Homo sapiens: one gene and its partners. The protein of the gene in region 2 interacts with the protein of the main gene of each other region in a biochemical or structural test. Each region holds a gene or a part of one and is shown on either strand. Other genes may lie near its edges. The genes, in order: ACAN, FBLN2, BCAN and FBN1.

What was found.
Region 1: the proteins of FBLN2 (region 2) and ACAN form a complex in vitro, tested with the Homo sapiens proteins (one study listed by BioGRID).
Region 3: the proteins of FBLN2 (region 2) and BCAN form a complex in vitro, tested with the Homo sapiens proteins (one study listed by BioGRID).
Region 4: the proteins of FBLN2 (region 2) and FBN1 form a complex in vitro, tested with the Homo sapiens proteins (one study listed by BioGRID).

What each region holds. Positions count from the first base shown.
Region 1 is NC_000015.10:88,799,582-88,806,440, forward strand, and holds the start of ACAN (aggrecan core protein isoform 3 precursor), read left to right. Parts: upstream 1-3,854; 5' UTR 3,855-4,228; intron 4,229-6,859. UniProt on the Homo sapiens protein: This proteoglycan is a major component of extracellular matrix of cartilagenous tissues. A major function of this protein is to resist compression in cartilage. It binds avidly to hyaluronic acid via an N-terminal globular region.
Region 2 is NC_000003.12:13,544,956-13,552,158, reverse strand, and holds the start of FBLN2 (fibulin-2 isoform a precursor), read right to left. Parts: upstream 3,035-7,203; 5' UTR 2,951-3,034; intron 1-2,950. UniProt on the Homo sapiens protein: Its binding to fibronectin and some other ligands is calcium dependent. May act as an adapter that mediates the interaction between FBN1 and ELN.
Region 3 is NC_000001.11:156,638,169-156,645,116, forward strand, and holds the start of BCAN (brevican core protein isoform 1 precursor), read left to right. Parts: upstream 1-3,948; 5' UTR 3,949-4,107; intron 4,108-4,214; exon of another isoform or gene 4,215-6,948. UniProt on the Homo sapiens protein: May play a role in the terminally differentiating and the adult nervous system during postnatal development. Could stabilize interactions between hyaluronan (HA) and brain proteoglycans.
Region 4 is NC_000015.10:48,467,676-48,474,709, forward strand, and holds part of FBN1 (fibrillin-1 isoform a preproprotein), read right to left. Parts: intron 6,976-7,034; coding exon 6,853-6,975; intron 6,703-6,852; coding exon 6,580-6,702; intron 5,002-6,579; coding exon 4,876-5,001; intron 3,082-4,875; coding exon 2,959-3,081; intron 860-2,958; coding exon 737-859; intron 428-736; coding exon 263-427; intron 1-262.

The DNA of each region.
Region 1 (6,859 bases), on a different chromosome or scaffold from region 2:
ACTGGCCAGCAGCCAGCACCAATTCACCAATCACGTGAGCGACCCACCTTGGACATGGATCCTCAAGCCCCAGTCAAGCTTTCAGCTAACTGCAGCTGTAACTGACATCTGACTACAACTTCAAGAGCTAGTCCAGGCCAGAACTGCCTGGCGAAGTTTCTCCCAAATTCCCGATCCATAGAAACCATGAGAGATATTAAATAACTATTGTTTTAAGACACTCAGTTTTGAGGTGATTTGTTACACAGCCATTATAACTGGAATATCGGATTATGTCGTTCATTCCAGGGGGGCTGTCTCTAGTGCTCTGCTCTAGAACTCAGCCCTAATCTCCGTCCCAGGCAATATTTTTATGAGCAGCCTGAATGAAAACATAGAAGTGGCACACTAGTTAGCTTTGTAGAATGTCTGCTGCTAAGAGGAATGGCAAACACACAGAATAATAGAGTCAGAATCCAAGATGATCTGAAGTAGTAAACTGAATTAGTTAGTGTAATGTTTAAAAGAAGCAAAAATGAAGCCCCACACTTGGATTGGAAAAACCCATTGTACCAGGATAAGCCAAAGGAGATGCTAGGTGGCAGAAGCACTGTGAAAAGGAAGTCTGAGCTGGCTGCAGGCTCCAAATGAGTCATGATGAGGCTGTCATAAAAGCACATAAATGTTGGCTGCATTACCAGAAGCACAGGACCCAGGTTATTGAGGTGAGCTCTCCTCTGGACCCAATCCAAAAGGGAGAAGGGAGAGACTTGAGATCACTGATTCCAAACAGAAAGGTTTATCACGTGGCAGGAGGTCCTGGGACAGGTTAGGGTTGGGGGGATGGAAATGGGCCTGTCTTGTTCACTGCTGAATCCACAGTATTGGGCATGAGCTTCTGTGAAAGCTGAAAGCTGCCTAAATACAAGAACCACGTGAAAAAAATGGATGTGGCCTCAGAAGGGAGTCAAACTCATGGCCACATCCAAGCAGAGTCTGATGTCCTACTTGAGGGAAACATCATGGACAGGACTGACATACTCTATGGAGGGGTGTCCTTAAAGTTCTCCAAGAGCTCTTCCCAGCTCTGAGATTCTCTTATTCTGTGATTTGTGATTGAATGAGTAGAACCTGCTGAATGATGTCAGCACAGTGCTTCTCAAACTTCAGCAGGCATATACAACACGGGAGGGATCTTGTTAAAATGCAGATTGTGAGTCAGTAGGTCTGGGGAACCTGGCATTCTGCATTTTGAATAAGCTTCCAGGTGACACTGCCAGTCTATAGAACATACTCTGAGCAGCAAGAGGTTAGAAATTGCCAGTTTACAGCAGACTGCATCGGGCAGCCTGGAAAAGGCATTAGGCAACTGTAAAGTATTCTAGCAGAAGAGGAGATGACCAGCTTCAGAAATATTACACTGGAACAGAGCTCCTGAGTTGGACAGGAAGAGCCTGTGTATGCCACCAAGGGCCTTCTGACACGCATGTCCTTTGACTCTCTGAATACTGTCTTTAAAGTGTCCAAATGCGTTGCCATTATCCTGGGTTTTTTGTATCCTTTAGGGCTAGGGAGTGTGAATTCATACCAGCCTGTACTCCAATCCCATTCACTACCTTGATGGCCTCTGAGTCTTGGTTTCTTAGTGTGTAAATGGGAATGGCATCCATCTGAGAGGCTGCTGTACCAAGCAGCATCTGACACATAATAGGTGCCCAATATATGTTTCTTAGACTCATTACAAAACCAGATGATCAATAAACATTTGTTCCCTTCAATACAAAGATAAATCGCCTAATTAATATTTGCCCTTGACTTGTTCTTCATTAACCCCACCTGCCCTAGGATGAATGTTGACATGAACCCATTTTACAAATGAGAGCAATTTGTTCTCCCACAAGGCATCAGGTAAACACAGGCATGAGAATCCATGACCTCGTTGGAATTTCAGGGACTGTTTTTTTCCCAGAGGGTCATTTCTCCCTGTTCCAGGCATTGAGGCCAGTAACTATTAAGATTTCATCTCTTTTTTTTTTTTTGAGACGGAGTCTTGCTCTGTCGCCCAGCCTGGAGTGCAGTGGCGCCGTCTCAGCTCACTGCAAGCTCCGCCTCCCGGGTTCACGCCATTCTCCTGCCTCAGCCTCCTGAGTAGCTGGGACTACAGGCGCCCGCCGCCACGCCCGGCTAATTTTTTTGTATTTTTAGTAGAGATGGGGTTTCACCGTGTTAGCCAGGATGGTCTCCATCTCCTGACCTCGTGATCCGCCCGCCTCGGCCTCCCAAAGTGCTGGGATTACAGGCGTGAGCCACTGCGCCCGGCCTCATCTCATTTCTTTATCTGTGAGAGAAGCCACTATCACCCCCTAAGGGGCTTCGGTCACCAGCATTTTGTCTGTGTCCTAAATGCTTCAAGACTTACAGACCTGACTCAATACGCTCAGGTAGAAAAAGGGTGAAATCAAGAATGGCCAACCACTGGAACACTTTAGCCATTGCTCTGAGAGGTGGGTGGATAGAGTGGGCACTATGCTCCCTCCGACGGGGCTTCACTGCCCTGGACAGGGGAGAGACAGGCGGCTCACAGAGCATGTGCTGGGCCAGGGCCAGTCCCGCCCCCAGGCAGAGATGGCCAGTAAAATAACCACATAATTCCAGTGGAGTCGCCCTGGGGAAACCGAGGCACTTCAGTTCCTTTTCATCAAGGAACTGATTAAAGTGTGGTCTATTATCTCTGTAGTGGGGAGTCCCGAAAGATTCCACTTCTTCCTCTTCTTGCCCAATGAGAGGGTCAGGAAGCTTCCACCACCATCCTGACTGTGGCCACCACATCCTGGTGTGAAGCACCACCAGCTTCCTCCACAAGAACTCTGAAGGTCACCAGCCAGCTTGAGTCCTCCGAAGGTGCTGTGGCTCAACCAGCAGCCTGTGTAGCAGAGAGCACAAGACCTGGGACTCGAACTCAGTCCCACCTTCAAGAGGGATCTCCACCACTTTCTGAGCCTCAGTTTTCACATCTTTGGTTAGGGGCAGGTGGGAAGTTGCCATATTTACCTTGTTGGGCTCTTTGGAAAAATTAAATGAAATGTTAATGTATGTTACACAACGGGCTCATAGGAGGGATTCAAAAGCTGCTAGTTCTTTTTCTCCTTTTCCTGAAAACGGTATTAAAGAGTACTGTAGAGACACTGGAGAATTCCTGCTTCATATGAGATGTCCTTGGTCTCTCCCGGGGAATTTGAAGACCCAGAGACTCGCAGCTCCCCGTGAGCCTCCCCGCTGACGCCTTACCTCCCCCTCTCCACCATCCCCTGCCATCCCGGTGTACGCCACCCCCAAAAAAACTTTCAGCCAGCTCCTCGGTGAGGGTCGTTCCAAATCGTGGCCGACAGTAGCGGGCTGCACCCTCCTTAGATCGCGTCGTGGCCAGCCTCAGCTGCAGAACCCCGCCGGGCGCCCGGGAGCCCTGTCCCGCCGCGGCGGCCTCAGAGTCCGGGCACTTGGGGATTCTCTGAGGGTGCAGCCCTCCTGGGCCCCTCCGACTGCGGAGCTGCCGACCGCAATGCAGATGCGGGCCCTCCAGCCCTTCTCGCGCCGCCTTCCTCCCGCCAGCCCCGGAGCTGCCGGGTCCGCGCCGCCCCGGGGAGCGCTCCTCTCCCGCCCTGAGCGCAGGCCGGCTTCCCCATCGGCGCGCCGGTCCGGAGCCAGGGTCCAGCGCGCTCCAGACGCCTCTGCCTTCCCCTCCCCCTGTCGGCCGCCCCTCGGTCCCTGGGGGTGGGGTTTCCCTTTGCGCTCGCCCCCTCCCGCCCCCACCCCTCACGGGCCCTCCCCTCCCCCGCCCGTCCCTATGTATGTGTCACAGCGCGCCATGCCCGCCCGCCCGCCCACCTACCTCCCCGCCGCTCCAGAGGGGGCTCGCAGAGCTGAGGACGCGCGCAGCGCTGCTCAAGGTCTCTCTCTCTCAGCACCCTCGCCGGCCGGCGTCTGACGCGGGTGCCAGGGTCTCCGGGCACCTTTCAGTGTCCATTCCCTCAGCCAGCCAGGACTCCGCAACCCAGCAGTTGCCGCTGCGGCCACAGCCCGAGGGGACCTGCGGACAGGACGCCGGCAGGAGGAGGGGTGCGCAGCGCCCGCGCAGAGCGTCTCCCTCGCTACGCAGCGAGACCCGGGCCTCCCGGCCCCAGGAGCCCCCAGCTGCCTCGCCAGGTGTGTGGGACTGAAGTTCTTGGAGAAGGGAGTCCAACTCTTCAAGGTAACTGTCTCCTTCCCTCCAGAGCGAGGCTCTCCCAGGGCGCCCGGCGAGCCAGGAACGGGACTGAGACTGCACGCCCCGGGGCTGGGGGCTGCACTGCCTTGGTCTCCGCCCTAGAGCTATGTGTGCCGGGGGCGCAGCACATCCACCGGCTGCGTCCGCGGTGGAGTTGAGCAAACTTTTTGGCTGTTGCAGACTCAGTGAATGGGGCAAAGGAACACGTGAGGAGGGGCACTTGTCTCCTAGTCCGCCAGGATGAAGGAACAAGGGAGCCTTTTCTCCAAACACCTAGGTGATTTTAAATCCTAGGGTCTGGAAAGACCCATGGTTGACAGAGTAGCAGCTTCAGAGTCAAGGGAATGTGGGTTCAAATCCCCGAGGTGCTACTTTTGAGCTGGAAGGTGTGCTTCACCTTCCTGAGCCTTGGCCTGCCGTCTGTCAGCTGAGAGGGAAAAGGCCTTCGCGGGGTCTGGAAGAATAAATGAAATCATATGGACACTATGTCAGGGACACAGCGGGTCCTAAGCCGAGGCTAGATAGTCCATCCTTGGCCACTTGGCTTACTCCAGGGACCAGAGTGCCTGAAGAGTCTGCCCAGGGGAGAGTGGCAGAACCTGGGACAGAGCTACTGAACTGCCAGCAGGGGAGAGGAGAGCAGTGCCCTGAACACACGGGTGTCCAACCAAGAAGGGGCATTTCTCAAGGAAGAAAGGGGAGGGGAGTTGAGGACACACGACCACGAGCGGTTTTTCCGTCTGTGGGTTCCTCTTCAAACGAAGCCAATGCTGGTGGAGCAGGAGCCCTTTCCAACCCTGGGGCTGGGTTGGAGGCTGTCAGTATGTCAACTGAACCACACTCTGGGCAGAGCAAGCTGCGGGGGTGGGGGCTTGTCTCTGGTTGTGAGACAGGATCCAACCCAAACTTTTCCATCATTATCCTCCTTTCAGTCATGAGCTGGGTTCTGACAGGATCCTACTAGGGTTTCACCATGAAGAAGCTGGAGTTCCAGCATGTTGACTGATGTGTAAATTCTGGTTCTGTGGGGCTGGCTGCCAGGAGGAAAATACAAAGCTGAATTGGGTTAGCACGGTGTTTTGGGGTCCTGGGTGCTGCAGTGGGTGGGTGTCTGACAGTTTAGAGGGGACTCTGGACCTTGAAAATTCACCCACCTCGTCTGAAGAGGAGGGCAAGTGGACCCAGAAAGGTGCAATGAATTTCTGAAGGTTGAACTGTGACTTAGGGTCAAGGGCAGAACTAGAATCCAGGTTTTCTGAGGCCATAGTCGGTCCCTCGTCCTGATTTAAGAGTCCAGAATTCTTGGGTTCTAATCCTTATCTCTCTTTCTTGTCCTGGGTTGCCATGGACAAGGAGCAATCAGGTTGCTCATGCACCCTGGGCAAGGTGGGTTTGGAGGCACTATGAAGATACGGTTTAGGAGTGTTGGCTTGTCAATCACAGGCTCCAGGGAGAAACTGCAGGAAATGGAAAGGCAATGGGGAAGAAAACCCTGAAGCTCGTTGGGGGAGGAAGCATTGAGCGGCAGTGGGGAGGAGAGGTTCTAACCTGAAAGAAAGATTGCAGAATAGTAGATCTCCCCAGTATAAAAAGTTTCAGAAGAAGGAATTGTCCAAAGGAAGAAGATATCTCTTGGAGAGATGCTGGAATTCCACAGGTTACCTTGAGCTGTGTTTAATTTAGATATTCTTACGTGTAGTTTCTAGTGCTGTGCCTGGTATTTTCATTCATTCTCCAATATCTGCTGAGCGCCACCTAGGTGCCAGGCTCTGTGCTCAATGCTGGCCCACAGCGGGTACTCAATAAACAGCAGATATGAGATGACCCAAGCAAAGGGCTTAGCGTAGTGCCTGGCACTGGGCAAGTACTCAGTAACTGTTTCATATTATTAATATTACTATTATCATTCTTAATTCTAGTAGTAAATGAATGTTTTTCTTTTTCTAGAATATTCACTGACAATCATACTTAAAAGGGAATATTTTGTTTAATGTTCGGAAGCCCTCCACACACCCAGGCACACCTCTTGCCCCTGTTCCCCATCTCTCTCACACCCACACGCCCAATCCCAGGCAGCCACTCACCCCTGCATGCCAAGGCAGAGCGTTCTCCTCCTCTTATGCCCCCTCCCCAATTAGAGAGGGAGCTCCAAGAGAGAGCTCACCTCCTGAGACAGTCGGCAAGAGCCAGGAGGGTGGACAGCCTGCATGCAAGGAAGACTGGGATTCAAATTCCAGCTCAGCCACTCGCTGGCTACATGGCTTTGATAAGGGTACTGAGCCTCCCAGAGGCTTCATTTCCTCTTCTCTAAAAAGGGGAGAAAATCCTCCGATAAGAGATTTTTGTGAAGATTAAAAGACATAAAGTGGGTGCCTTGTCCAGCTCTCAGCAAGCACCACAAACTTTAATTCCTCTCCTCTAACAGCTCCTAAGCCCCCTTGTGGGTCACAAACCCCAAGTTATGGATAGCAAAAATTTCAAATGTTTTCTCTTGATAAGAGACTGTGTGTCCTAACTTTTGGTGTGAATTTTTTTTTTTTTTTTAAGATGGGAGTCTTGCTCTGTTATCCAGGCTAGAGTGCAGTGGCCCAATGTTGGCTCACTGCAACCTCCGCC
Region 2 (7,203 bases):
AGACCCCACCCCTCCCCAAACCAGAATCCACCAGCAGCTCCTCATCACACCCAATCACCTGCACCTGCTGTGAGTGAGGATCACTTGAGGCCAAGAGTTCAAGATCAGCCTGAGTAACAAAGTGAGACCTCATCTCTACAAAAAATAGAAAATTAGCTGGCTGGTGTGCGTCTGTAGTCCCAACTACTTGGGAGGCTGAGGCTGGAGGATCACTTGAGCCCAGGAGTTTGAGGCTGCAGTGAGCTGTGATCACACCACTGCACTCCAGCCTGAGAGACAGGACGAGATCCTGTCTTTAAAAAAAAAAAAAAAAAGGAGGGGCCGGGCACGGTGGCTCACACCTGTAATCCCAGCACTTTGGGAGACTGAGGCGGGCGGATCACGAGGTCAAGAGATGGAGGTCAAGTGGCTGTGCAATCTTCACCTTAGGCCCGAATTTGCTGCAGAGAACCCAGTTTCACTTACCATCAGCATGCCCCAAGCATTTACGAAGCACCTATTGCGTGTGAGGTGTGGATGGGCTCAGGGCACTCCCCCCACGGCCAAGGAGACCAAGTCCTCCCACTAGTGGCTCAGTAAGAGGGGCAAAGAGCTTTGCTTTGGAGGGAAAAGATCCTGGGCTGAACCCCAGCTCTCCCCCTTGCCTGCTGGGAGGCCCTTTCTCTACCTCCCCTTCCCCGTCTCTTAAATAGGTGCAAGAGTTCCACCCTGCAGGAGGGATGTCGGGATCTGGGAAGAAAAGTGATGAATAAAGCCTGCCTCGGAGAATGCTCTCTGGCATGAGCTCTTGCTTCACGGGGTCCCCATACCACCGTCCCCCACAGCCTAGCAGGAAGTGTCTGCCACCATCACAAAGATGCCCTGTGGCCCAGGGCCCTGGGCACCACTCATTGCTTCAACGACTAAGGCCTCGAAGGGTAGGAGGCCCGCCCAGGGCTTCCCCAGCCATGCATGGAGGACCAGCCTGGGCCTATGCTTGAGGCGGGCAATGGAGCAAAATCAGCCCAATGCATGCAGCAGTCACAGCCGCACAAAGGCCACGCAGGCCAGGCAGGAGCTGAGAAGGCATGAGAGGGCCAGGTGGGGACGGGGACCAAACAGCGCCCCTGCCCCATCCCCTGGGTTGGGGGTGGGCAGCACCAGCCAGGAGATGCAGATCCTGAACTACCAGACCTTGTGACTTTTCAAGAGAAGACGGAAATCCGGACTTTTACGTGAAAACTGCCAATTTGTAAATGCAGGCAGCTAATTAATTTTTTAAAATAATAATAACATGGTGAGAGCCAAACAAAACATGCAGGGCCAGCCACAGCCGGGGCTGGCAGGTTTGTGCCTCCAGAATAAGATTCTTTGACTTCATCCCCTGCTCACCCCCATCACACAGCTCAGCTGCAGAAGGGGAGGGCGGGAAGTCAAGGGTGCACCCCAGGGGAGTAGCTCCCCCTCCCTCTCTTCCTCCTGCTGGGGAGTCTTCACCCCATTTGGCATATGGGGAAGTTAAGGCCCAGAGCCCCTATCAGCCACAAACACACACCAGCTCCCAATCCATGCCAGGCTGAGGGAACACTTCTCAGCTGCCACCCAATTCATCAGGGCTCCCTCTGGGAGGGCCCGGACCAGCATCTCAGGGGCATCAGGGTAGACACAAGCACCCAAACCATCCTGTTTGACTTCCCTTTTTCTCTTTTTGGCCTGTCAGGGGACGCCTGCTGGCTCAGGCCTGCTTGGGACTGGCCCAAGTGATCACTGCAAAGCTGATATGGGCAACTCCTTGTGGCAGCAAAAAAGGGAGGGAGGGCACCCCTATTTCGGAGACTGGAGCAGGGGAAGGGAGAGAGGATGCACGGAGGTGAGGAGTCAGGCCCAGCCTGAGGCTGAGCCACCCCCATGCTCCCCACAGCCACCCAGGTCCCATGGTAAGCAGCCTCTGTCAGGAGGAACCACCTCCCTCCTCCAAAATCGGCTCCCCACCCCCTAGGACAGGGGAGGACTGCCCATGGAGTGCCAGGGGGGCTGGGACTGTGAAGTCGTGGGGGTCTGTGACTCGTATGTGAGACTCACAGTGTGTGGCACTCCCAGTGTTTGTGATTCCAGGTATTTGAGGAGCACACGCATGTGAGAGACACATGTGTGATACATATGATGGAGATATGCATGTGATAGCTACCCCTGTGTGGCGGACGTGTGTGCGTGTCAGAGGGCAGTAAGGGCACATGTGTTTATCAGAGACACAACTGTCTGCTAGAGGCATGCCTCGGAGGGGTGCCAATGTGCAAGGCATGTGTGTGTGGAGCATTGTGTGCTAAGGGGACGTGAGATGAGTGTGAGAGATTCTGGCCTGGGGGAGCTGGCGGGGTGAGCATGGGGCTGGGAGAGGGAGGATGTGGTGACAGGCAGGGTGGGCGCGCCAATGCAGAGCGTGCAGAAACTTCTGCTTGTGTGAGTGCGTGTGTGGCGGTGAGTGTGACTTGGGGGTGATGGAGGGGGTAGTGTTAGACCAGGGACTCTAGTCTTCTTTCCCCGAGGGGGTTGACCCGGCCCTCTGGACTGGAGGGGCGGCAAGGTCCTGCGGTCGGGGTGGGGGTGGGCAGTGGGACCAGAGGGGATGACTGGTGGGAGCCGGCCCAGGGGGGAGAAGTGAAACCCAGAGCGGAGGAAGCTGCGGACCTGGGGTGGGGGAACCCGCCCGCGGACCCCTGGCCCCCACCCCGCGCCGGCCTCTGTGCCCGCATCTGTACACTGGGTCGCGGCGCTCGCGGGCCGTCCCCGCGCTGGGACCGGGAGAGCGAGACCCGGTCGGACCGGCGGCGCGGGTGGAGGCGCGGGCAGCCCGCGAGGCGCGTCCGAGGGTCCGCCGAGCCGTCGGTGCGTCCGAGCGCCCCCGAGTCCTGAGCTGCGAGGCGCGGACCGACGGGGATGAGTCCGGGCGGGAGGGGCCGCGTGCACTCACCGCGGGGCACTGCGCTCGGCGTCCGTCCGTCCGTCCGCCCGGCCGTCGGCGCGTCGAGAGCCCGGGCGGCCCCTGGCTGTGTGCGCGCGGGGCGGGGCGGAGGCGCGAGAGGCGGGACCAGCCGGCCCCCGGCCCCCTCCCCTGACTCCGCCTCCGCCTCCGGGGCGGGGTCTCGGCCGCCCGCCGGAGAGGGGGCCGGGCCGGCGCCGCTCGCTCAGAGCCCAGACTCGCTGACCCGGCTCCTAGAGGCCGCCCGGCGCGCTCGCTGCGGAGCCCGCACCCTCCCTGCGCCCGGCCTAACCTCTGAGTGCCAGACCTGGCACTGCTGCCCACAGGGCAGGGCCAGGGGTTGGGGTCCGGCCACCTCAGCCAGCCTGAGCCTCAGTGATCACCCCTGGAAGATGGGCCCAGCAGCCTTGGGCACATTGTGAGGGCCTGAGGGGCCCGGCTACAAAACTGCCCAGAGGCCAGGCCCTGCCTCCCACCCGCCTTGCTTCCTACCCTGGGGGCCTGCCTGCAGCCCCACTGCTGCTGCATGTGCCTGGGCAGACGGTACTGAGCCCCCAGCTTTGGAACAGGTTCAGTTTGTCCTTTTCCTCAGCCCAGCTCTGATGCCTGTGACCACTGTGTGACCCCCGGGGTGTCTCTTCCCCCAGCCCACACCGATCCCTTTCTGGGTCTCTTTCGGGGTCTCCATCTCTGATCTAATGTCATCTCTCTGTCTCCCTTGGTTTGTCCCTCTTGGTCTCTGCATCTCCCTCTGACTTTATCTCTTGGTCTCTGTGTCTCTCTGAGTCTCTCCCATCCCTGTCCAGAGACGTATGGCCTGGTGGTCACCACCTCACATCTGAGCAGCAGCCATGGGCCCAAAGTGTGCCTGCCCCCACCCCCAGGGGTCTCCCTGCAGCCCAGGACAGGGGTGAGGCAGCCAAGAGCAAAGGCACAGGGCAGGGCAGCTGCCTGCCCAGGGCCGCACAGCAGAGAGGAGGTGGAGCCAGGAAGGGCCCATTGGCTTAGATGGGGCCACCCACAGAGAAGCCAGGAGCGGATGGAGGGGCCAAAGCCTGAGCTGGCAGCCTGTGCCTGGCCTGCCCCAACTTGTGTCTAACCCCAGGCAGGTGCCTTCCCTCTGGGCCCGTTTCCCCATTGGAGCTCTGTGCTTGCTGTTCCCTCAGGGCCTTTGCCATTGCTGTTCCCTCTGCCTGGGATGCTCTTCCCCAGATCCACCGTGGCTGACTCATCCCTGCATTAAGATGCAGCTGAAATCCCACCACCCCCAGAGAAGCCCTCCCTGAGACCCCAGCAGAGGTAGCAACTACCACTCTCCACCCTGGGACTCGGCCGCACTGTTATTACAGTACTTGTCACTGGCTGATTTCTCTTATTCATTTATAAATGACTATAGGTAGGATCACCTGGTCATTAAGAAAGTCACCACACACCAGCTGTGTGACCTTGGGCAAGTTACTTCACCTCTCTGGGCTTTATTTCCTCAACTGTAAAATGAACATAACGACATCAAAGCCTATCTTATAATGTTATTGGAAAGATCAAATGAACCGAAATGAGCCAAACCGAAAGTACAGATGCTCCTCGATTATAATGGGATCATGTCCCCATAAACCCATCGTAAATCGAAAATATAGTAAGTTGAAAATGCATTTCATCCACCTAACCTACAGAACATCATAGCTCAGCCAAGCCTACCTTAAATGTGCTCAGAACACTTCCATTACTAGCCTACGGGTGGGCAAAATCATCTAATACAAAGCCTATTTTATAATGAAGCATTGAATATCTCATGTAACTCATTGAATACTGCACAGAAAGTGAAAAACAGAATGATTGCCTGGGGATTCCAAGTAGGGTTTCTCCTGGGTGTGTACCACTTTCTCAACATCCTAAATTCAAAAAATCCTAAATCGAACCATCGTAAGTCAGGGATTATCTGTACTTTGGATGGGACTTGACCCAAGGGAGTGCTCAGTAAATATCTGATGAGTAAATGACAGATTGAATCCTTCCTCCTGTGGGGGAAGGAGGGGCAGTGGCCTGGGGTGATAGAGACCCTGGGCAGCTGCTAATGAGGCTCCCTTCCCCAGGCCTGGGAGGAGAGGCACTGAGCCAGATGCAGCTCACTCTGCAGCCCAGGGAGCCCAAGGCCTGGCCCGCCTTCCACAAGATAAAGTGGAGACACTTCTCCCGTCCTGTTATCTGAGCCGGAGATGCGGCCAAAGCGGCTGTCCCTTCAGAGCCCTTCCAAGACTGTTATCGCAGACAGAGCACGCATCACCCACCAGGAATTTGGGGCCCAGGGCCTGGCTGAGAAATGGTTGGAGGAAGTCAGGCTGATAAGGCCTAGACAGAATGATCACAGTGGGCAGCGAAGTTATTTACATCAGTGACAATCTCACCAGCTCCCTGGGCACTGAGGCGCCAGGGCCAGCAGGCATGAGGCTCACTTGTCCCACCTGTGCAGCCTGGATTGGGAAGAGAAGCCTTGCTGAGCTTCCTGGGTCTGCATCCTCACTGGGTAGCCTTGGGGAGGCTGCCTACGTTGGAGCATGGGTTCTGGGACCCAATGGCTTTGATTTAAATCCACATCCTCCCTGTATGACCTTCAGCAGGTGGCTTCAACCCTCTGGCCTCAGTGTCCTAGCCTATAAAGAAGTTCCTGCCTTATAGGATTGTTTTGAAGTTAAGATGCTTACAGCAGTGTCTGGTATATCATAAGCCCTCCATTAAATGTTTGTTGTTGTTAATCACAAACAACATTAACTTGAGCTGTTTGGATGAGAAAAGAAATTTGTGATCACAGTGTGCCTGGAAACCAAGCTTCGGGGAGAAAGGCCCAGTGACAGGGCCCAAAATCTCGCTGCCCACCTGGGTGCAGACAGCGTGAGGGCTGCCCACTCCTTGAATGGTGGGCCCCGGACTCCCCGCCAGGACTTCTCCCCAGCTCCCTCCAAGGGTCACAGTGCCTCTCCTTCCCCAGCAGTGGGTTCGGCCCTGAGCCTGCTTAGTCATCTCTCCCACCTCCCATTTGACAGCAGCTGCAGCCACAGTGGGGGCAGTGTGGGTCTCCCATCTGTCCCCAGTTGCAAGAGATACTAGGAAAGTCAGTGTCCAGGCCCCCCAAGACCCTCGAGGGGAAGAATTCCACACGATAGGAAAGATATCTAGACATAGGCCCACCTCCCCCAGGGGACAGCCCCACCTGCCATCCTGCTGCCCAACGAAGACCCAGGACACCACACCCGCTCCCAGGCTTTAGAACAAGGCTTCTCAGACCTGGCAGTGCATCTGAATCACCTGGGGAATTTCTCTTTTTTGTTTTTTTTTTTTTGTTGTTGTTGTTGTTTTGGAAATACCACTGTCTAGACTCTACTCCAGAACAATTAAATCCCAGTCTCCAGAGGGTGGAGTTGGGCATCAGTACTTTTTTTTTTTTTGTAATCCCCAGTAGGTTGTAAGATGTGCTGCCAGATTTGAAAAACACCACTTGGGGTACCTCCCTCTAGCCTTCCTCTTCCAGCTTTGTCCCTCCCCAGAGTGAAGAGTCTAAGAGAACAATGAGATGTGCCCGCCAGGAGTCCCTGATGACCCCCTACTCCTTTCCAGATCATATGCCAGTGCCCGGAAGTCCCTGCTTAAATGGCCCTGACCCCCAAAGCCTGCACAAGTCTCTTTCCGTCTTCCCTCCTCCCAAGAGTGGACTGCACACCAGTCTATACACCCCAGGCCCAGGCCCGAGGGCAGCTGCTGGCAGGTAGCATGAGCAGAGCATGGACATGTGGGCACACAGTCACTCCTGGGAGCCGGACACAGTCACTCCTGGGAGCCGAGTTCAGGCTCTCTCTGGTCTGGATCCCCACTGCATCTCCAGCCTTTCACCCACCTACACCCCGTCCTTACATCCCAGAGCCCTACTCCTCACCCAATGAAAAGCTGATTTCTTCTCTTACACCAGGAACTTCCCCACCTCTCTGCCTGTCCATCCCACTGTGAATGCTGTTCCACCTACCCACATCCTTCCTACCCTGTGGCAGAAACCCTCATCGGCCCCCACCATTCATGTAAGAAACATAACTATAGAAATTTTAGATGGCTTTCTGGCTGAAGATTTCACTCCCACCCTCCCTGGCAGCCAGGTGGGACCACAAACATGTCGTGCTGTTGAATTGGGGCAGAGTAATGTGGACAATTTCTGGCTCATGGCCTTAAAGGAAAAGATGATACAGCCACTTTGTATT
Region 3 (6,948 bases), on a different chromosome or scaffold from region 2:
CAGCCTGTAGTCCCCATTGCTGTCTCCCTACTGCTCCACATCCCCTCCCACTCCACACTCCCTGTCTGCGGCAGCAAGAGCCCTCAGAGCCACACTCAGCCATTTCTGCCCCCCACCCCCTCCTGCCTGGGCTGGGGTCCCGTGCTTCCTGGCCTCTTTCAGAAGCTATCAAAGCCCCCATTCTCTGAACACAGCTGTGCCAGCATTCAGAGCCACATCCCCCTCTTCAGCCCTACTCCCACATGCCTATGGCACAAGACCCAGATGCCCGTGCAGGGCCTCGGAGAGGAACTCAGCTGCCTAGGCCCCCACTCCAAGTCTGGGAGAAAGGGGGCAGGTGTTCAAGGAGGTTGGCAGGACAGGCTCTCCCAGTGGCCACTGTGGAATAGAATCCAGTGAGGAAGGCCCAAGGCTAACACTGGAGATGGGGGGAACTCAGGATGCAGGAGCGTGGAGGGCAGATTCTCTTTTCTCAACTTGGGTCATGGCCTCAGCTTTGGCATGGATGGGGGATGTTGGGGGTCCGGTGGAGGCAGGAGATTGATTGTTCTCATCCAGAGAGGCTGGAAAATTCCCCAGGGCCCAGGAGACTGGGAGGCAGCCAGCTGGGCTGCACGTGGGAGAGGGAGGAGAGCTGCCCACGCTCTCCCTCTCTCTCTTTCTTCTCTCCACCTCCCTCTTTCTCCCTCCCCTGATAGACATCTGGGGAGCCCTGGCAAGAACCTTGGCCTGGGAGTCAGGAGACTTGATTTTTGGTCATGGTTCAGCCAGTTCCATGCTGTGTGACTCTGGACAGTTGCTTGACCTCTTTGGGTCTCAGTTTCCGTGTTCAGAAGATATTCAAGGTTACTGGAGGAATTTTTCTCCTGTTACTGAGACAGGAGGTTCTACCTGAAATCTGACTTTCATTCTTCCCGCTGCCATTGATTCTGTTTGCTTTCAGCCAATCCCCAGGGATCTCTTTCTGAGATCTGGAGGGGCTAGGCAGAGCCCCTCCTCTGGAGGGGGTTCTTGCCTCTGGAGGAGGCTGATTCTTGCCTCCTCTCAGAAAGTAAATAGAAACGGGGGAAGACACATATGGCCAAGTGTCCGTAATTGTAAAGAGAGTCTCTGATCAGCAATTGCTGGTTCAAACTGCAGGTTAGCCTTCAGTATAAATTTTCTCAGCTGGAAATGTTGGAAAAGCCTCAGAGTGCCCATTTCCTCCCCTGAGAAATCCTCTGGAAAGGTCTCTACTCCCAAATAATGAGCTCTCCAGGGCAGTGGTCCTCTGACCTCCTGGCCAGGAGATCTGGGCAGATTAGGTTGCTGTGTGTGTGCGCAAGTGTGTGTGACTGGGAAAGGAAAAGAACTAGATTTTGCTAAGCCCGAGTCATGGGCCAGGGGTTTCCCTTGCCTAGAACAGGTACAGTAGATATTGCCCAGTGCAGTAGATATTATTCAGCCCACTGTTCAGAAGAGAGAGTTTCAGAGGAGGAACGGGGCCCTTTCTGAGGTTTGCCACTGCAAATGACAAAACAGGAATTTGACCTCAGTGCCTGTGATGCCAGAGTCCTCGTCTGCGCAACAGCAGCTGTCTGTTCTCTCACCACGTCTGGTCTCCCACCAGGGATCTGCTTTTTGGAACAGACTGTCTGGTACCAGCCCTTGTCCAGACCCAGGTGCTGCTGGCCTCAGTCAAGGGTGGATTCCCCCAGGGCACCGAAGTGAGTGCCAATCCTTCTGGTCATGAGGAGAGGTGGTAAGGAAGGTCACTTTCTCTGCCTTCTCTGGTCACAGCCAGGTTTCCCTGAGGCAAGAACTGTGGTTACATCTGAGCCACCACTGGGATTAAATTTCAGCCGCTTGGTTGCCTGGCTCAGCCTGGCTGGCCTCAAGCCCTGTAGAGCCAGTGTGGAGGTAGGCTGGACACATGCATCCATGCTGAGACTGTCCTGAGGAAGGGGGGTTTTCTTGCAGCTCTGAAATGCAACTTCTAAGGGGAGCAAAAAGACATCCTAAGGCTGCCCAGATCTGTCCCCGAAGGCCTTCTCAGATCCGCTCTTTCTACTAGAAGAATTGGAACTGCATTTCCAGGCCTCGAGCAGTTCCTGGTCCACAGCTGGAATTCAATTCAACTCATATTGGTCTAACGAAGTAAATAGATCGAGGTCCCTTCCTCCCCAGACTGTCCCAGGCACCTTCCTCTGTCCCCTTCAGTCTTGCATCCTTTCTGGGGCATTTTTCTTTTCTTTTCTTTTCTTTTCTTTTTTTTTTTTTTTTTTTTGAGAGGGAGCCTCACTCTATCACCCAGGATATAATGCAGTGGCACGATCTCAGCTCACTGCAACCTCCACTTCCCAGGTTCAAGCAATCCTCCCTGCCTCAGCCTCCCAAGTAGCTGGGATTACAGGTGTCCACCACCACACCGGCTAATTTTTGTATTTTTTTAGTAGAGATGGGGTTTCGCTATGTTCACTAGGCTGGTCTTGAACTCCCGACTTCAGGTGATCCGCCCACCTTGGCCTTCCAATGCTGGGATTATAGGCATGAGACACCGCACCTGGCTGGCATTTTTCTTGGTAAGGAAATTTACCATCTACCCCTCCCTACCCCCCAGGTCTTCTTTTCCTGTCCCTACAGTAGATGGGTCTCTGGGAAGGGGCCAGAATCTTCCCTTTAGACCCTCAAAGATTTGGAGTGGGTTTTTATGTGAGGTTCTCAAAGCCCTTTGGAACCAAGTCCATGGCACTGGGAGTGAAAGCCAGGCAGTGGTGAGTGGGGGCGTTGGCACATTCAGTGGGGAGCAGTCCAGAGTTCCCAAGAGGGACCTAGGGTGCAGTCTAGATGGAAGGCTGGGGATCTGCCTTGAGGTTGCATTTGCATTGAATGCACCTTACTTTACTTGGGGTATTTTGAAGATGCTGTGGAGATTATGAGGATCAAAGCCCTCCAAAGCTATCCTTGGTGCCAATATTGGTATCCAGGGGAGGGAATCTAGGCATCTGGCTGTCCTGCCCACTGTCCGTGCCAGGGGCTTTGCCTACAGTCCCAGGAGGGAGGAGGGAAAAGCAAAGAGAGCCTGGGAAAGGAGAGGGAAGCAGAGGCCCTGGAGCTGGGGGAAAGGAGGGTCATTGGTATTCTGGGCGCTGAGGAGTTCCTGGCTGGGCAGCACTCAAGGCCCACCCCCTGGCATCAGGCTGCACATTCAGCATCGACAGCCCTGGCCAGTAGGCCTTCTGGGCTCCCAGCAACGCCTGCATTTTGCACATTGGTTTGCATGACTGGTAATGTCCCTTCACAGGGCCACCCTCACCCCACCCCCACCCCAGGTCTAGAGATTTCCTGAATTGCTTTGCTTAACCCATGATTCTGCTGTCTAACCTCCATCCTTCCAGCTGCAAAGTCAGCTCCTCCTCTGTGCAGGGAGTGGGAGCACCACAGGAGCCAATGCCCAATCATAGCTGCCTCCAGGGAGGTAGCTACGGTCCTTTGCACCCCATTCTGCCTCCAGAAAAGAGTTTTCCATTTTTTTTATTAGAAAGGGTGTCTCTTTTCAGGAGCAAAGCCCCCATTCTCCCTTCATCCACTTCTTACAGTCTAATTGACTCCCTCCTCCTTCTTCTTTGAACAACGAGAAGACTCTCCAGTTGTCCAACTTCCACCCCTCCAGCTGCAACATCGTCATCCTTTAGCTCAGCGAACGCTGGGCGAACGCTCCCTCCCCGCCCCTCCTGCCCCTCCTCCCTACTCCAAGCCCTCGGCTTCTCATCCGCTGAACGATGTCCTACTTCGCTCGTCCTTGCTCTCGCCGCTGCTGCCGGAGCCGAAGCAGAGAAGGCAGCGGGTCCCGTGACCGTCCCGAGAGCCCCGCGCTCCCGACCAGGGGGCGGGGGCGGCCCCGGGGAGGGCGGGGCAGGGGCGGGGGGAAGAAAGGGGGTTTTGTGCTGCGCCGGGAGGGCCGGCGCCCTCTTCCGAATGTCCTGCGGCCCCAGCCTCTCCTCACGCTCGCGCAGTCTCCGCCGCAGTCTCAGCTGCAGCTGCAGGACTGAGCCGTGCACCCGGAGGAGACCCCCGGAGGAGGCGACAAACTTCGCAGTGCCGCGACCCAACCCCAGCCCTGGGTAGGTGAGTGCCTCCGCAGCCCCGCCGCCCGCCGTGGGGTCGGGGACAGGGAGAAGGGAGTGCCTGCCTGGTCTGCGCCCCCCGCCTGTCAGCCCTTGCCTCGAGGCTCTGGGGCACCCAACTCGTCGACTCCTGACACCGCAGCGGGGTAGGCTGCTGGACAGCCCCGAGCGCCTGCAGCTGCTGCTGCCATCTCTGATCTACATGCTTCCAGCTCTGCCAGTGGCAGCCCCCCTGCTGCTCGCAGTCTGATCAGCAACCCCTCGGGTCCTCGCATCTTCCCTGCTGCGCGCTCCTGTCCCAGCGCGGCCGCCGAGATTTCCGACCTTGTCCCAGGCAGGGCGGTAGCGTTCCGGATCAGTCCTTGCCTCCGTGCCCCCACGCACAGGCAGCTCCAGGAGCAGCGGCCAGCAACCCTTCTGGGGACACCTTACTGTAGTCCGGCAGGACAGCCGATCAGAGCCGCTCTAGGGGGTGGTCGGAGTGCCCATTTCGGCTGGAATCCCAACTCGGCTCCTTGCTCTGTGACCTTGGGGTAGTTAGTTGACTTCTCTGAACCTCGGGTTCCTCATCGGTGTAATGAGCAAAACATAAACAATCTTTTTCTCACAGTTGAGGTTATCCACAGGAAGCATTTAGGAGAACTGGCTCAGGTAGACATCAGTAACTATTAGCTGGAATTCGGTTACCACTATTGCATTCCTTCCTAGCACTGCCAGGGGCCTGGGAATTCCCTCTCCCAGGTATTTCCATATCCTGTCAGGTATTCCCCCACCTATTGGAATAGCTCTGCCTACATGGTTCTAATAGGACCAAGAGATTGGCGTCAAGTCCAAGGGGCACCATTATTATCTGCATTACTTAGATTGCAGATGATGACAGTAAGATCAGGGAACAGTGTTACCCTTAGACCCACCCACAGTATTACCAGTGCCTATGTTGCTATGGCTAACTTTGCTATTTATAACAGCATCATCCACATTTCAGATTCTATACGAGAGGGATCTGCAACTGCTCGGCTGGTGTCATTGCTAATAGTATTATTAGTTTTGCTTCCAATAAAAAGGACTATTTATATGATGATTGCAATTACTTCTACAGGCCCTAAGGCCCTGCTTATATTGTGTAGGCTCATGTTGCTCCTCATGAAGCCGTTAAGGGGGTAGCAGAGAGCTTCCCTCCTGCTATAGCCAAAGCTCTGGCTTCTTGTGCCTCCCTGCTGACCCTGCTGAGTGCTGGAGCTCAGTTCCTATGGGACAGACCTTGGCTGCCGGCTGATGGGCATTCAGCATGGAGGTGGTGGGTGTTGTTAGATGTGTGTACACACGTGCATGCCTACACACACACACACACACACACACACAGAGAGAGAGAGAGAGAGAGAGAGAGAGAGAGACCTGGTCTTAACTCTCTGGGTTGGGTCTATGAAGACTGTGAGGGAGATGGACATCCCGGGTCAGACAGAAATGATGTGACAAGAGGAAAGTTTCCTGAACAGCTCAAGAAATTCAAAACAAGGGCAGAGATACAGACGCTGGAGCTGAAACAGAGAGGGGGATGTTGTGGCGTCAAGGGAACGGACCGCATGACTGCTGAGCTCTCAGGGTTAGAGTTGGAGAGGTGTGGCCTGCTCTGGAGGAAGAGAAGAGGAAGTGGAGATGAGTGGTGTGTGGGATAGAGAAGGCCACAGAACCCTGGACCCCTGGGTTCTGAGGCTGGTACCGGATGTGGGGAAGTCTGAGTTTCCTCAGGGCTCCTAGCTGCAATTGGGAGGCTGAGGCCCGAGACTGGAGAGACAGAGCTCTCTCAGAACTGCACGGGGCTACCCTCTTGGCCTCACTGGTCAGTGACTCCCATTTTTGGGGTCAAGGGTAGGTTGCCCTCCATGTTCCAGAGCAGTTAGGTCCTCATTGGCCTTAGGCCCTCTTCCCTCACTCTCCCACTGTCAGACAGAGGTGAAAGGGTGGTCCAGGGTGTTGGCCCCAAAATGACTCCAACTATATGGGTCTCTGGGCTGCCCGTCAGAGAGATGGGAGCCAGGTCTGTGAGCAGCTCCAGCTCCAGCCCAGAGAGAAGGGAGGGAGGGCACCAGAAGGGGGCCAGGCCCAGGCCCTGGCACAGCTCAGATGCATGGCAAACAGTCTTCCCAGCACCCGGTGGGCACTGGCTGCTCCTGCCCAATGGTCCCCACTCCAGCCCCAGAACAGTCCTCCCAAGCACCCCAATGCCTGGAGCTGGTCTCCGCACCTCTAATCTGGCCCCATCAAGAACCTCCTCCCTCTGAAAGGTCAGAGAGAGGCCCTAAGCATCTGGTTGTGCCACTCCTCTCCCAACTCTGACCCTAGGGAATGATATCCAGACACAGTGGGGGAGATGGGGGTTATGATGGCAGGGAGGTGGGAGGATCTGGGAAAAGTAGGAAATTTCCCATCATCTCAGGCTTAGGAAAGTGCAGGGACAGGTATGAAGGCAGATGCTGAGAGGGCAGGGAAGATGGGGGATAAACAGTGGGCCTGGAATGGGAGTGCACAGCCAGTGGAATAAACCTGATCTCTAGGAAGTCCTGCCTGTAGTCTAACCTTCAATTCTCTTGCTGCATCATTGGCCTATTCCATGGCATACCTGGATCTCCATGCTCTTCTAAGTTTAGCCCAACCCTTAAAGATGATGTAGCTCTGAGTCTTCTCTCCTGGGAGCACATTGCCCTCGTGCCTGACTTGGCTTTACTAGGGATCCAGGGTCAGCCCTATCCTTCTCTGAGCCTCAGTCTCCATTTCTCAATGTCACAACACATCCTTTTTATGAGAGTGTAAGTGCTTCGAGATCTTTGGAGGAATATTCTGG
Region 4 (7,034 bases), on a different chromosome or scaffold from region 2:
CCTAGTCTGGAAAATCTTTAAAGTAATGCTATCTGCTTTTCACTTACACAGAAGTGAGATGTTACCTGCCCTACCTGATCTTTTAGTGTGAGCCAACCAGGAATATTTTCTGACTCTCGAATTGGGAATAAGGTCCCCTCTACAGGGCTGAGAGGACTGATCTTTCTTCTCTGATCTAAGAGTAGAAAAGGTTTGTCTTCTGATCTAGAAAGGAGAACTGGCTGGAGTTGAAATAATAATAAATAGGAGGATGTCCACTTACATGTGTTCACAGCAGGACACATCTCACAAGGAGTACCCCAGGCTTTACCCAGAGAACAGCAGCAGGAAGCTTTGGAAACACCAACTCCAATTTCATTGCTGCAGGCTGTATCTCCATTGTCTCCTCGAGGTCGAATATCCAAATAGCAATTTCCAGAGCGGGTATCTATTTACCATATACAAACACAAAAGCATCAGGCAGAATCTTTCTACTGGGGTTGAAAATTCAAACCCACTTCAGGAACTGTTCAAAAACCGTAATTTACTTTTACTGAGAAACTAAAAAGTGCCCATGAACATTATACACTACCGAGAATTTTCCCTATGGAAAAGATATCTGAATCTAAAGTAGAGTTAGGAAATGTTTAAATTTCTGTATCATTCATTTTGCAAACTTTGAGAATGGAATGTTTGGTGCTGTTTTCAAAATAATACACAGTATGCTTGCTTCTCTGAAAAGTTTTTAAGGTCTTACCAACACAGCCAACTCGAGTTGGGTTCAGTTCAAAATCAGGTGGGCAGTCACAGATATAGCTGCCTGGAGTGTTGACACAGTTCCCACTGATGCACGTGGTTGGATCCAGGCATTCATTCACATCTAAAACCGAACAGTGAGTAGTGGAGTTATCACCTGAGCCAGTGTAGGCAGACATCACCATAAAAGAACAGGGCCCAATCTAGAGCTCCAAACAAGAATTTTAAAGCTACTAGTTATAACTACATCTAGAAATGCAGTCTTCCACTTCAGAGATAAAACACCTCAGGAAGGAAATATGATATAGTCTTTGGTGGTCTTTCCCCAGAACACATTTACCATTCAAATTTGTCATCAGGATAAAATATAACTTTGGGCCGGGCACGGTGGCTCACGCCTGTAATCCCAGCACTTTGGGAGGCCGAGGCAGGCAGATCACGAGGTCAGGAGATCGAGACCATCCTGGCTAACACAGTGAAACCTCATCTCTACTAAAAATACAAAAAATTAGCCAGGCGTGGTGGTGGGTGCCTGTAGTCCCAGCTACTCGGGAGGCTGAGGCAGGAGAATGGCATGAACCTGGGAGGCGGAGCTTGCAGTGAGCCAAGATGGTACCACTGTACTCCAGCCTGGGCGACAGAGCGAGACTCCGTCTCAAAAAAAAAAAAATATATATATATATAAAATATAATATATATTACATATATATATAAAATATAATATATATTACATATATATATATAACTTTGGCACTAGGAAAAATATTCCAGTCAAGGTAACTGAAGGCAAAACACTGTTGTGACCTCGGTCAACCAAAAATTCAGACACAGGTTTTAAGAAAATATATTGAGTATATGTGGCTTGTTATTTCATCAAATTAGAGCAAGATGTCCCAGGAAACCCTCAGAAGGGCAACTCTTGCTGCTTCCCCTGACACACACGCGTGAGGCTTAGTGTGTTCCCTGAGGTCGGCAAGGAGTGTCTCTCCCATCATCCATGCTGAGTTGAATATTTCCCTTTCAGTTTCTATTCCAAAAATATGTACAGAATTCCAGATATTTAGGACATGGGTTTTGGCAAATTCCACTCTGTACAATTCCTTTTGTCTGTTTTGAACACTCATGAAATACTCAAGAATAGACAAACGGCTTCTGTGAGGAGGGACTGGAGAAGAGGGACAACACCTTTGCCTTGGTCCTCCCCTTGGATCTGGCAACCCTCCTGCGGGTTGCGCTGCAGATGATTTTTTTGTTCAAATTGCATGTGAATTTGGACGGACAGGGCCAGAGTAACAGAAACGAGATTAGACAGAATGATGTTGATAGTGATCTGGGGCACGCAGGACAGGGTACAGGCCATGGAGAGGGGGACTTCCTGAGGCATGCAAGAGACCCAGCCTGGTCTCGTAATAGCTTTAAGGAAAACCAAGGGAAGAATGTGTGGCTGGAGAGGAATACTCCATCCAGAGCATTTGCAGGGTGGTGGTGGTGGTCATGATCTGGAGAGCCCCTGAGTCATGGTTTGTTTAGGTGGTTGAAAAGACCAGATTTTTTCCGGAAATTTGAACTCATACAGAACATAAGTTGTTTCTTCAGTATCCTTGAACAGAGGGGTGAATTAGGAAGGGGAAATGCAAATGGCTTTCAAAGTCTTAGTGCCAAAGAGAACCGAGTGTCAGTCTGCTGGGTGCCTGTAGTTTTTCTAAGCTTTTTCTAATGTTCCCTGAGAGTCCTTGGCTCAACAAGAAAATGATTTATACACTAGAGATAGGTGGCTGAGCTCTGTGTACCCAGTACTCTGGTGACCACGAGCAGGGCAGGGGTAGGAAGGAGTGGGGTGGGTATTGCAACAACGAAGTACAAGGAGAAAACCCATGATCCCGGGGCATGGCCTCCAAAACGAAACTCTCCAAAAATGTACCCAAGTAGAAAAGGAAATGGCTGGGAAGCTACACCACTAGAGCACCCCTAGAACATTCCTTTGTAGCCACAAACTCAATTTCAAGGCTACAAACTGTGCTCCTTCAATTGTCTTAGACTCTTTCCTCTGGATCCTCACCTCCAATCAGTTCCAGGTCTGAGAAAAGGTATCTGTGATTCTTAATACTTCCCCCTTGCTTTTCTTGTCTTCTGTGACGGCCCTTGTGTAGTCCCAGGGAGGCTCCAATAGCTGGGTCCCCCGGGACACCAGGGAGCTGATTTTGATGCCAGTGGAGGTCTTACCTGTGCAGTTCCCGCCGCTTCTGTCCAGTTCGTAGCCTATCTCACACTCACAGCGGAACAGGCCAGGGAGGTTGTGGCAAGTTCCAAAGACACAGATGTTCGGAAGGGAGCACTCATCAATATCTTGGGGGGAGGGAGAAAAAAGCAAAAAACTTAACTTATATTTTTCTAAAAAAAACCTGCCAAATATAATTAGGCAACTAATGTAAATACTAAGAAAATGCAGAGTATCTAACACCAATCTGGGCACTTCTCCTATAGACTTTTAGATGATTTGCCATGCACAGTGAAGTCTCGTAGGTGAGAGGTTACTTTTCCTCAGTCTCTATTACATGCCAAGCAGCGGGCTGAGCATTTTATAGATACATATCTCATTTGTAGTGTTCCACGTAGGTCCACATCACTTTCGTAAAGTAAGAGGCAAGCAAGCCACCTTACGCTAAATTCGTTTTTTTTTTTTAATCTATCTATGTAGTCACTGTTTTTGTTGTGAATTAAAATTTCACAAGCCACAATGTCTTTCAGGGAACTGTCATAATTAGTTGCATAATCTCCAGTGTCCCTAGTCCTATGGCATGTGTTTGCCTTTGTTGACGGAGATTGGAAAACCGCACACGCTTCTTCCAGGCCTCTGTCTCTGCCTCCTGTTAACATTCTTCGTGTGCAGTTGACACACAGTCACATTTTCAGGCTTGAGACTAGCTTTAAATAGCCATGACCACTCCACCAGCCATGATTTATATTAAGAACAAACAAACAAACAAAACCTTCTCTTATAGCAATAAGAGAAGCAAAACTTTCACTGTGACTATTTGTGTCACCAGAGGTGGCACAGTACCTGTTTTCCTTGGATATTTGGAGTAACAAAAGTAAACAAGGTATTAGGCACATGATCAAGAGCATAATCTGGTTTCTTGACTCCAAGGAGTTTTATATCAAACTCTGCATATTTAATATAAACTGTATAAAGAACACCCAACGGTTCCATAACAAAGAAAAGTATTCACATAAAAATACATGAGGGAATTAGTATACATGTCATAGCTAATGACTGATTTTGAGTTCACGTCTTGTTAACAAGGAACAACTATTAACTAATACATTAATCAGGGTCTTGTTTAAACTTCTACTGACAATCGTTATCATTTGTTTATTTCTACTGAAATCTTCTTTTCAATGAAGGAGAATGTGCTTAAATTTGACAAATGTGGGTAAAGGGAAGAATCTTGTGTTCCCTAATGGGATCCAGCCTTAGCTAACAGGTTCCCAGGACTCTTCGTGTCTGACCAACACTTATCAGAATGACAGAGCCTAAAGCTGAGCGATACCATGCCATATGGCAGTATCCCAAGGGTCCCCTATTGAACAGATTTGCAAAACTGTTCCATGTTCATATATGTTAGATATTTAGAGCAAATGTGAGACATACCATTCTACGTATGGACAAGACTATTTGCTCTGCTTTTATTTCTACAAACCAAATACAGTGGAGATTAAAACCTGTGTTTCCATATTTAGTGATAATCCCACAACAGGACATTATCAGGGAACTTGCACTTTCAGCTCTTTTCTCCCTCAGTAGGGATTAACAGGTTGCATCCCCCTCCGTAGGGATAAATGGGTTGCACTGATTTAACCACACTTGGTTACCCTCATTGACCAATGGATACACCCTTGCAGACCATGCGGCCAAGGCTGGATGTACAGCTTGTGGCCAGTCAGCTGAGGTTTTCTGTGCAGCAAGAGAAATGGTCAGCTGGAAACCTAATCCCTCTACAAACTGAACTGACCAGCTTAGAAATGAAGCTAAAACACACCTCAGTTTAAAAAAAAAAAAAAAAAAAAGCATCAGGAATGTTTAAATAACCTAATCTCATCAAGCCCAGCAAGGCTCCCAGTGGCTTCCCCATCAGTTACCTTCACAGGCTTTCCCGTCAGCACTGGGCACGAAGCCCATGTCGCATTCACAGCGGTATCCTCCTGGTGCATTGAGGCACTGGCCATTGCCACAGAGATTCAGGTTCTCAGAGCACTCATCAAGGTCTACAGCCAGAAAGAAACACACGTTACTCTTCCTCGGTTAGGGGCTTTCTAATTCCTCAGGTCTATCAACTTTCCAGTGCAGCAATGTTTTGGCATAACTTCAATTTGACACATTTAAAGTCATTTATTTTTCTCTTTGGTAGGCTAACACTGAATATGAAATTTACATGTGGCTGATTCAGAATCCTGAATGATAATTTACCCTGAATGATATAAAATGAATAAGCCGAAGGAATCATGCAAACTAAGGCCTGTTCAAGAAGGGTCATCCGCATGGAGGGCACACCCATGACAGGAAATGACACATCATGTTTGTGTCTATTTCTCAAGTTTCAGGCTTAGCTTAGATGGGCACCAAAAGTGCAAAAGAATGGCAACCATAGGGAGAAGAAAAATTCCATCTGCTTAATCTCTACCTAGTTTTCTTAATAATCACAGGCATTTAAATATCAAACACATAAACCACACATGCCTAATACATGGAATTTGAATATGTTCTCAAAATGATGGGAGGTTTTTGATGACAAAACATCAATAAGTTAGGCAAAAATGATTTCATCTGAGATAAAACTTTCAGGGAATAAAAAAAAATTCCAGGTAAATCACTTAATGAGCCTTAGCCTCTATTGTGCTTAAATGACTTTTTATGAACAAAGTGCTCAGGATAAATCAATGTTTTAAGTTATAGGAGCAGCTATGCGACCTAATGGCTAATGGATCTTATTATTTTATTTAACTCCAGAGCTCTGATATAAAAAGTGCTGTCTGTAAATATATGCACATGTAAGTATATGTATAATTTATGTAATGACAAGTCTAATCATGTATGTTTACATGTGTATAGAAGTTTATGTTAATTCTATGGCTATTAATTAGAGCCAAAAAGAAAATTTCATTAATATATTATTGCAAAACTGGAAGTGAATGAATTCCATAGCAGGTTTGAAATTTTTACTTATACCAATATGGAATGTTGATGATGACGATAATGATGATGATGATGGCCTGTTGGAGAGAAATACATACTGTTCTTCTAATCTAGAACATCTAATCCCTTCTCCTTACATAGTTCCCTACAGCAAGCTTATCCTTGTGTTGGTACAGAAAGGAAGTCATTGGTGAGAAATAGGCAAAAAAAAAATAATAATAAATAAAGGCTAGGCATATAAAAGGAAGTATGATTTGTTTAAACTAATGACATCATTATATACAGTCATATAATGATATATATGCCAATTGTAACTATTATAAGGCCTAGCTGACTTGAGGTGGAGAATGGTATGACTTTTTTGGTATCATTTTATGTTAGAGCACAGATCACTGTAAATGATGTGATAATGGCACCTAAATATCTATCTATCTATCTATCTACCTACGTATCTACCTATCGAGAAGCTTTTGAGGTCTCCCTAATTGACCTGGTTCCAATTTTTTTTTTCCCACAGAGCTCTAGTGCCAAATGATGAATCTTTTCTATTAACTGACCCAGTCTTCAAAAAAGAATTGCTAGCCTGAGAAATGTGGAATGCCTGGCTTCTCTGACTAGTGTTGACACAGTTGTTTCCAGCGTGAACATACCTGTACAAGTGAAGCCATCACCTGTGTATCCTTCCTTGCACAGACAGCGGTAAGATCCCATGGTATTCTTGCAGTCTGCATGCTGGCTGCACATATGGGTTCCATTGGAACATTCGTCCAGATCTTATAGAAAAAGGTTATATCATTATTAACAGAAAGGGTGGTATTTAAAACCAATAATACACAAATTAAAATAACTTTACATAATTAATATTTTCATATGTGTAATCTATGCAGTCCTTGATAAGCAACCTCTGTTACTTTCCTACTCACCAGTGCACTTAATGCCATCTCCAATCCACCCGGGACTGCAGCTACATTTGAAGCTTCCTGCTGTATTGGTACATACAGCATGTTTGCCACAGTTGTGTGCTCCAATTTCACATTCATTGATGTCTGGAAAAATGAGCAGTGATTTAGAAAAAGGCTCAGCACAAATGTCTTTTGGTTTTTAA